Linked DNA regions of Homo sapiens. The protein of the gene in region 2 purifies or fractionates together with the protein of the main gene of each other region. This does not show direct contact. Each region holds a gene or a part of one and is shown on either strand. Other genes may lie near its edges.

Region 1 (5,293 bases), on a different chromosome or scaffold from region 2:
AGTAGCTCACGCCTATAATCCCAGCACTTTGGGAGGCTGAGGCGGGAGGACTGCTTGAGGCCAGGAGTTCGAGATCAGCCTGGGCAACATGGCAACACCCTGTCTCTATAACGTATACAAAAAATAGCCAGGTGTGGTGGTGCAGGTCTGTAATTCCAGCTACTCGGAAGGCTGAGGTGGGAGGATCACTTGAGCACAGGAGGGGGAGGCTACAGTGAGCTGAGATCCCTCCACTGCACTCCAGCCTGGAAGACAGAGTGAGACCCTGCCTCAAAAAAATTGGCCGGGCACGGTGGCTCACGCCTGTAATCCCAGCACTTTGGGAGGCCAAGGCGGGCGGATCACGAGGACAGGAGTCCAGACCATCCTGGCCAACACGGAGAAACCCCGTCACTACAAAAATACAAAAAATTAGCCAGGCGTGGTGGCACACGCCTACAGTCCAAGCTACTGGGGAGGCTGAGGTAGGAGAATGGCGTGAACCCGGGAGGCGGAGGTTGCAGTGAGCAGAGATCGCGCCACTGCACTCCAGCCTGGGCGACAGAGCTAGACTCCGTCTCAAAAAATAATAATAACAACAATAAAAAAGTTTTTAATCCTAGTATTGCTCTCTAAATATAAATGGAAACAAGCCCAAAACAGGAATCATATGCTCCAGCAAGTACATTTACTGTTTGTAGGTGTAAGGAAAAGGGGAAGAAAAGAGACTGAGGTTTTGGATAGTGCTTCACTATTTTCATAAGTTTAAAAGGTAGGTTCATGAAGTATCCACAAAGATAAAGCAGTTTAACCCAAGAATAGCTCACCCTCGGCAGTCTGTAACTTGGTGGGGGGCGGGGGGATGGGGAAAGCTATTCCTACTACTTTCTAGAGCAGCGGGAGAAAATAGCCTTAATAATCCAATTATGTTAATCAACAAAAACCAATTTCACAGACTGGCCGCAAACCTAGAGAAGGCACCTATCACAGCTACCATTCTACACAACTCTATTGCCTAACGCAGGAGAGGTGAGACACTTAGAATCTTTCTTACTTTCCTGACGTGGCTGGAGACTTGAAATTAACTTGCAAATTGAGCATTCTCTCTAATAAAAACTGCTCCCACACATGCCAGGGCCAAACCCGAGTAGTCTGAGGTCCCGGATCCCTCCAGTGGCGCAGCTTTCGGAAGCCTGTCTTGGGGGGGAAAAGTTCAGCAACGAAGTCGCAGGCTCTTAAACCTTTCTCCCCAATTCCTTCTCTCCGACGTTAAAGCGGTGGCCGGGGCAGGCCCGCGGAGGGCGGCCTGGAGAGCGATACGCCCGGGGCCTCCACCAGACCCCACTCCTTTCCGCGTCTCCCGATGCCTGGGAATCCGGGGCGGGTCTGAGAGGGCTGGGGCAAAAGGAACAGTCACCTTCGCGGCGAGAAAGAGGGTGGAGGCAGGAATTCGGGCCAGGCTCTCCCGGAGCTGGCCAGGACTGGCCGAGCCCGACCCCGCACTAACCCGCGAGAGAGGTAGGGCAGCGAGGGTCCGCCGCGGCCCCAGCGCCTACTGCTGGGGGAAGGGGCGGGGGCTCCGGAGCCGAGGGCCGAGCGGGGAGGAGGCAGAGGAGGAGGAGAGGGAGGCGGGGCGGGCAGGCCCGGCCCAGGAGCTGGGCGGCGCGACTCACCTCTGCTCCCGGCCTGCGGGGCCAGAGTAGCCAGGATCCCGCGCAGCTCCGACGCGGAGATCCGCACACGCTCCAGCCCTTCCGCCATCTTCGCGGCTGCTGCTACAGCCGTAGCGGCTCCGCCACCGCCGCGCGCAGCCAGGAAACCACCACAGACGGGCGGCGCGCGCGCTCGCCCACCTCCCGGCCTTTCCCCGCCCCCTGCCGCCCTCCCTTTCCGAACGACGGTGGCCGCGCTGGGAGGAAAAGCGCCCGCCGCCGGTTCCAGAGGGGCGGGACCGGAGCGAGAGCCTGGGTGGGGCGGGCGGGCGCTGCGCGTGCGCAGAGGTGCGGCCGGGGAGGCGCGCGGAGGCTGGAGCTGGAGGCGCGGCGCCGGTGAGCTGAGGTGAGGCGAGGCCGGGCCGTGCCAGGCCAGGCGGGCGTTTGCGGCGGTGGCTGCCGTTGCTGTTGTCGTGGACACCAAGGACACTGCTAGTCTGGGACTCGGGTTGACAGAGACACCCCTCAGCCTGGGCTCCTCTGGACACCTTAGGCCAGGCTCTCCCGCCACAGGCCCGGCCTAGCGCCGCGGGCCATTACTTGGGACCTTGAAGATCTGCTAAGAGTAGTTGTTACTATTCCCTTTTTTTTTTAGTTGGAGTCTCGCTCTGTTGGAGACTCCCGGGCTGGAGTGCAGTGGCGCGGTCTCGGCTCACTGCAACCTCTGCCTCCTGGATTCAAGCGATTCTCCTGCCTCAGCCTCCCTAGTAGCTGGGATTACAGGTGCACGCCACCAAGCCCGGCTAATTTTTGTATTTTTTGTAGAGACGGGGTTTCACTAGGCTGGTCTCGAACTCCTGACCTCAGGTGATCCACCCGCGTCGGCCTCCCAAAGTGCTGGGATTACAGGCGTGAGCCACCGCGCCCGGCCGCCCCCTGACTTTTAAAAACTAGATACGATATAGTTGGAATCGTGTGGAAGGAAGTACATCAGGAGGCATATAAGTCCATTTGGGACCTGTAATCCCGGCGACTCGGAACGCTGAGACGGGCGGATCGCTTGAACCCGGGAGGCGGAGACTGCAGTGAGCCGAGATCGCGCCACTGCACTCCAGCCCGGGAGTCTCCAACAGAGCGAGACTCCGCCTCAAAAAAAAAAAAAAGTCAATTTGGGAATTTCTGTGTCACTATGGATTCTTGAAAAAAATTACTGCTGTGGATCTCAGGTTGACTTTTTAATTTCCCATCTTTAAAATTGAACTATACCAGAAGGCTGGTACTTGAATCTTTTTTTGGAGAACTGTACAGAGGTGAAGCTCCCTTCCCCAAGGCCTCCTGCCTCCACCTGTTGCCCCTCCACAGCCCCATAGGCTTTTACCCCACACCCATCACAGAATAGTTACCAATTATTCCTTAGTCTGAGCCGAAGGGATTGCCACAACCTCTGACAGAACTCCTTCAGTTCCTTTTACGTGACACTTTGTCACCGGAAGGTTAAGCATAAGAAGAAAGTCAGTAGATGATGGGTGAAAAGATCCAACAGTTCAGAAGAGGAACCATTTGAGTGGTCAGAGCAGAAGACAGCCTTTGCCACCAGATTTGAGAGAAATAGGAAGAAGCGTTAAAAAATAATCTGTTTCATATTGAAATTTGAGAGGCCATTGCATGATTTCTTTTTTCAGCTGGAAAAATAATGGAAAACAAGAAAACTTTCTTAGGACAAATGGCACCACCCATTTAATGCAACAGTGTCAGTGAACTGCAGATTAGATATGCCAAAAGTTAAACCAGTTCAAGAAAATTTACCAGAACTCAGAAGGAAAAGGTAATAGATAAAAACTGAGAGACAAAGATAGGAGACATGGAGAAGGGGTACAAAAAATTAATAATTAAATACGAGTTCCAGAAGGGGATAATACAGCTGACTGCAGAAGAGCAATAATCAAATAGTAGAAGAAAATTTACTACGTTGGTGGAAATTTTTGAATTATCAGATTTAAAGAATTCATGAAATACCAGGTAAAAAGAAATGACAAGAAAGACAACCATATTTAAGTCAGTATCACAATGAAAGCTGCTGAGATTTTTTGTTTTTCGTTTTTTTTGAGACGGAGTTTCACTCTTGTTGCCCAGGCTGGAGTGCAGTGGCACAATCTTGGCTCACTGCAACCTGCCTCCTGGTTTCAAGCAATTCTCTTGCCTCAGCCTCCTGAGTAGCTGGTATTACAGGCGCCCACCACCATGCCCAGCTAATTTTTTGTATTTTTAGTAGAGATGGGGTTTCACCATGTTGACCAGTCTGGTCTCGAACTCCTGACCTCAGGTGATCCACCCGCCTCAACCTCCTAAAGTGCTGGGATTACAGGCGTGAGCCACCGCGCCCAGCCTTGAATTCAGTTTCTAAAAGTAAAAATTGTACAAGTTGGCCGGGCGCGGTGGCTCACGCCTGTAATCCCAGCACTTTGGGAGGCCGAGGTGGGCAGATTGCCTGAGCTCAGGAGTTCCCAACCAGCTTGGGCAAGATGAAACCCCATCTCTACTAAAATACAAAAAAATTAGCTGGGTGTGGTGGCGGGCACCTGTAGTCCCAGCTACTTGGGACGCTCAGGCAGGAGAACTGCTTGAACCTGGGAGGCAGAGGTTGCAGCGAGCCGAGATTGCTCCACTGCACTCCAGCCTGGGCGACAGAGTGAGACTCCGTCAAAAAAAAAAATTGTACAGGTCATATTTACTTAGCACAAAGTAATAAAACTAGAAGTGAATAGCCACAAATGAAGCAAAACATTCTAACCATTTGGAATTTTTTTAAAAACAACAATTTTAGGCCAGGCCCCGTGGCTCATGCCTGTAATCCCAGCACTTTGGGAGGCCAAGGTGGGCAGATCACTTGAGGTCAGGAGTTCGAGACCAGCCTGGCCAACATGGCGAAACCCCGTCTCTACTAAAAATACAAAAACTAGCCGGGCGTGGTGGTGGGTGCCTGTAATCCCAGCTACTTGGGAGACTGAGGCAGGAGAATCACTTGAACCAAGGAGGTAGAGGCTGCAGTGAGCCGAGATCACGCCACTGCACTCCAGCCTGGGTGACAGATAGAGACTCTGTCTCAAAAATAAAACAAAACAAACACTTTCCACCCATGGACACCGCCAAGTCTAAGTCAGAGTCTCCTAAAGAGCTCGTACAGCTGAAGAAGCTCTTCATTGGAGGGCTGAGCTTTGAAACAACCAATGAGAGCCTGAGGAGCCATTCTGAGCAATGGGGAACACTCGCGGACTGTGTGGTAATGAGAGATCCAAACACCAAGCACTCCAGGGGCTTTGGATTTGCCACATATGCCACTGAGGAGGAGGTGGATGCAGCCACGAATGCAAGGCCACACAAGGTGGATGGAAGAGTTGTGGAACCAAAGAGAGCTGTCTCAAGAGAAGATTCTCAAAGACCAGATGCCCACTTAACTATGGAAAAGATATTTGTTGGTGGCATTAACGAAGACACTGAAGAATATCACCTAAGTGATTATTTTGAACAGTATGGAAAAACTGAAGTGATTGAAATCATGACTGACCAAGGCAGTGGCAAGAAAAGGGGCTTTGCCTTTGTAACCTTTGATGATCATGACTCCGTGGATAAGACTGTCATTCAGAAATACCATACTGTGAATG
Region 2 (4,512 bases):
AGGATTGTTCTGTTTGCCAAGGCTAGCCCCGACTTTCCCTATCTTCACAAGGCAGCCCTTCAAATGAGTTCCAGGATTCCTTCCCTCCCAGGCTGTTTGAGAACACTCTCTACTCAGCTAACTTCAGATTCAACCCCCTCCCCAAGCAAGCCCCATGGTCCCACCGCCTCTAGGGCTAGCTCAGGGCAGTATCACAGTCTGGGAGCTGCCCCAGCTTCCATGTCCAGTGTTGGGGGCTGACAGGGGGCACCAGATGGGCTGCGGAAGCTGACACCAACATCTCTTCCTCCATCCCCAGAGATTTCCTGGAGCCCGATTCAGGGGTGAGTGATGTGGGAGGGGTCAGGCTGGGCTACAAGTGGAAGGAGTTTGATCCCACTCTTGGCTCCTAGAGTCCCGATCCCTACTGGAAACTAAAGAGCCGAGATTGAGGGGCGGGCTGGAGCCTGGGGGCTGGGTTCATATCCCACCTCAGCTGCAAAGTCCCATGGACTACGTGGGTGTGAATAATGTCCCTGCCGAAGCTCAGTTTGTCCCAGGAACCTGCCCACACACCCAGGGAAGACAGTCGTTGCCATCAGGGTTGGTTTTGAGGTCTGAGTCAAGGCCTGGGGGCAGGGCGGGGGGCGGTTGGCAGGGTGAGATGGAAGGTTCGATAGTGGGGCGCCTGACTCACTGCTGCCCCCTGACTCCCCTAGACATGTCCAGAGGTGGATGAAGAAGGTTTCACTGTCCGGCCTGATGTGACCCAGAACAATATCCTTCTGGCACCCCCTGGGGGCAGTTGTTGGCACAGCAAGGACAAAATTCTCCGTAATAACCAGTCCACCTTCAGCAGTCCTCTCTGTGTACATCCTGGAGAGAGTCTCCTTTGTGGATGAAGCCAACCTAAATGTAAACACCCACTCTATGGGGTCAGCACTGGGCAAGAGGGAGAGAGAAAAGGAGATCTAGCAGGGCTTCCTGGAGGAGGGGGCACCAGTGTTGGGGTTTTGCAGCCGAATAGGAGTTTGCCAGTTAGTTCTGGGCATGCTTGTGCAAAGGCTTCTCGGGGGGGGTGGGAGTGCTGGTGGGACATGGTGTCAGGACTGAAGGTGGCGCGTGGTGAGCGATGGGATTGGGCAGGACCTCGAAGGGTTTGAGCAGGGAGGGACGAGGCTGGATTGGAGAGCTGACTGGGGGAAAGCTTGTGTTGGGATTGGCTTGGACCTTGACTGCAGCCCACGCACGGCCGAGCCCTCCCGTTTCTCGTCCAGCGACTCCGACTTCGACGATGAAGAGCCCCGCAAGTTCTATGTGCACATCAAGCCTGCCCCGGCCCGGGCTCCAGCCTGCAGCCCCGAGGCAGCAGCGGCACAGCTCAGGGCCACCGCGGGCAGCCTCATCCTTCCTCCTGGCCCAGGGGTGAGGCGTGGGAGGGGTGCCCTGGGTGTTGCTAGAGAGGCTGGCTGGATGCATTCGTGTGTGATGTTGCCCACTTTGTCCACAGGGCACCATGAAACGCCATTCTTCACGTGAGTAGCCTTTGGTCTTCAGAGTGGGGAGGATCCTAAGGAAGGGAGGCTATGGGTTTGGGCTTGAATCATAACTCCGTTTTGTAACTTTGGGCAGGCTGCTTAACCACACTGACCTTCAGTCTCCTTTTCTGTAAAATGAGGTCATTATGAAATTAAGTGAGAGCTGAAAGGGGTAGCTGGGGCCAGGAGAAGCTAGCATCTGGAGACAGGCTCGCTTAGGCTTGAATCCATGTCTGCCTGATTTGCTGATCACCTTGGGCAACTGGCTGGACACCCCCGAGCCTCGGTCCCTTGGTCTGTGGAGTGGGGAGCATTGCAGGCAGGGTGACAAGAAGGCTGAAGGAGGTGCATCTCTTGTAGGGGACGCTGCTGGGAAACCCCAGAGACCTCGGTCTGCCCCCAGAACCAGCAGGTGGGTTCCACACGAGTGGGCAGGTGGGGGCTGTCCCCACCTCCTCCCTCCACCTCCCCATGTCTCCGCCTGGTGTTCTCTTGTCCCGGCTGGGAGTTGACGTCATGCTGGGGTTTTTTTGTTTTTGTTTTTGTTTTGAGACAGAGTCTCACTCTGTCACCCAGGCTGGAGTGCGATTTCAGCTCACTGCAACCTCCACCTCCTGAGTTCAAGCGATTTTCATGCCTCAGCCTCCTAAGTAGCTGAGATTACAGGCACCCACCACCACGCCCAGCTAACTTTTGTATTTTTAGTAGAGACAGGGTTTCACCATGTTGGCCCGGCTGGTCTCGAACTCCTGACCTCAAGTGATCTGCCCACCTCGGCTTGCCAAAGTGCTGGGATTACAGGCATGAGCCCTTGTGCCTGGCCCATGCTGGCTTTTGAGGGACCATTTAGTCATTCATTTGATGAACATTTATTGAGTGCCTGCTGTGTACCTGTGCTGTTCTAGGGTCTGGGTTCTGAGACAGGTCTCCCTTCTCAGAGTCACATTCTAGTGACTCCAGATTTTAAGAATAGCAAATAGGGCCAGGCGTGGCGGCTCACGCCTGTAATTCCAGCACTTTGGGAGGCCAAGGCAGGCGGATCACCTGAGGTCGAGAGTTCGAGACCAGCCTGACCAACATAAAGAAACCCCATCTCTACTAAAAATACAGCATTAGCCAGGCATGGTGGCACATGCCTGTAATCCCAGCTATTCGAGAGGGTGAGGCAGGAGAATCGCTTGAACCTGGGAGGCGGAGCTTGCAGTAAGCCACTGTTGTGCCATTGCATTCCAGCCTGGGCAGCAAGAGGAAACTCCGTCTCAAAAAAAAAAAAAAAAAAAAAAAAAAAGCAAATAAGTTAGAGCATATTCGATACTTCTAAGTGCTACGAAGAAACTAAAGCAGATGACGCGAAGACAGGAGGAGGTGACTTCCCTTGAGGTGGGGTTGGGAACCTCCCTGAGGGGGTGACTTGGAGCTAAGCCCCAAAGAGGAGCTAGGAGGTGACTGTGAAGAGAGCTGGGGAAATGGAACTCCAGACTGGGAACAGGCTGCACACAGTGGCTCACACCTGCAATCCCAGCACTGGCCAAAGCAGCCAGATCACTTGAGGTCAGGAGTTTGGGATCAGGCTGGCCAGCATGGTAAAACCCCGTCTCTGCTAAAAATACAAAAATTAGCCGGGCATGGTGGCAGGTGCCTGTAATCCCAGCTACTCTGGAGGCTGAGGCAGGAGAATCGCTTGAACGCAGGAAGCGGAGGTTGCAGCAAGCTGAGATCGTGCCACTGCACTGCAGCCTGGCCGACAGAGCAAGACTCCGTCTCAAAAAAAAAAAAGACTGGGAACAGCATGTGCAAAGGCCCCAGGGTGGGATGAGGCTTGGGAAAAATAGAAGCAGCCCTCTTGGCCTCACCCTCTCTAGCTGTGCAGAGAGATTGCAGTCAGAGGAGCAGGTGTCCAAGAACCTCTTTGGGCCGCCCCTGGAGTCAGCCTTTGACCACGAAGATTTTACAGGTGATGGGGATAAGGGATTGGAGGGCATGGGTGTGGCCGGAGGGAGGTTGGGTGGGGCCATTGCAGAGTTAGGCCAATGAGGTCCCCTGGAAGCCAGGCTGGAGGGAGGACTAGTCCGTGTAGGGGTGGGCGGGGCCAGAGTGCGCGTGGGAGGGGCCATAGATAGGGTGGGGCCTTGGCCAGTGGGCGGTGACTGAGTGGATGGGCCGGACATTTGTGGAGAGGGAAGTCACCAGAAGGTGTAGCCTTGGGGGCGTGCACAAGGACTTTGAATGGGGGCCCCCCTGACCTTCCCTCGACGTGGCCGTGGCCTGCAGGAGGATGGGCAGGGACTCTGAGTGGGCGAGGGTCGGAGCTGACCGCCCGCTTCCCTCCCCAAGGCTCTAGCAGCCTGGGCTTCACCTCCAGCCCCTCCCCTTTCTCCTCCTCGTCGCCCGAAAACGTGGAGGATTCCGGCCTGGACTCTCCGTCCCACGCGGCACCTGGCCCCTCCCCAGATTCCTGGGTCCCCCGCCCAGGCACCCCGCAGAGCCCGCCCAGCTGTAGGGCGCCACCCCCAGAGGCCAGGGGTATCCGGGCACCGCCTCTGCCAGACTCGCCGCAGCCCCTCGCCTCGTCTCCAGGCCCCTGGGGGCTGGAGGCCTTGGCCGGAGGAGGTGAGTCCAGCGGGCCTGGGCCTGAGAGTTGCTGGAACCCTGGGCGGGGGATTGAGCGCCTGCTTTGGGCAGGGCCTGATCAGGCTGCTGGAGACACAGCCAGGACCAGGCAGGCAGAACCTCCCACCGTTGCAGGGACAACAATGAGATGGACATTTAGCAAGGCAGGCGGTAGCGGGTGCCAGGTGGGGGCCCTCCCTGAGGAAGGGACATCTGAGCTGAGATTTGAGGGAGGTGAGGACAGAACCACGTGGACATGAGGGGAAAGGCGTGCTGGGCAGAGGGCACAGCCCCTGCAAAGGTCCTGGGGCAGGAGCGCGCTAGGCCTGTCTGAAGAACAGCAAGGAGGTCTGCCTGCTGGAACGGGGTGATCACGGAAGGAGGA

What was found.
Region 1: the proteins of FCHO1 (region 2) and SRR purify together in Homo sapiens (affinity purification with mass spectrometry; one large-scale study listed by BioGRID and IntAct). This does not show direct contact.

The regions. Positions count from the first base shown.
Region 1 is NC_000017.11:2,301,981-2,307,273, forward strand, and holds the start of SRR (serine racemase), read left to right. Parts: upstream 1-1,969; 5' UTR 1,970-2,037; intron 2,038-4,496; exon of another isoform or gene 4,497-5,293. Other genes in the region: SMG6 (telomerase-binding protein EST1A), read right to left, coding at 1,653-1,740. UniProt on the Homo sapiens protein: Catalyzes the synthesis of D-serine from L-serine. D-serine is a key coagonist with glutamate at NMDA receptors. Has dehydratase activity towards both L-serine and D-serine.
Region 2 is NC_000019.10:17,774,758-17,779,269, forward strand, and holds part of FCHO1 (F-BAR domain only protein 1), read left to right. Parts: intron 1-298; coding exon 299-323; intron 324-698; coding exon 699-756; intron 757-1,225; coding exon 1,226-1,404; intron 1,405-1,489; coding exon 1,490-1,514; intron 1,515-1,877; coding exon 1,878-1,929; intron 1,930-3,379; coding exon 3,380-3,471; intron 3,472-3,851; coding exon 3,852-4,127; intron 4,128-4,512. UniProt on the Homo sapiens protein: Functions in an early step of clathrin-mediated endocytosis. Has both a membrane binding/bending activity and the ability to recruit proteins essential to the formation of functional clathrin-coated pits.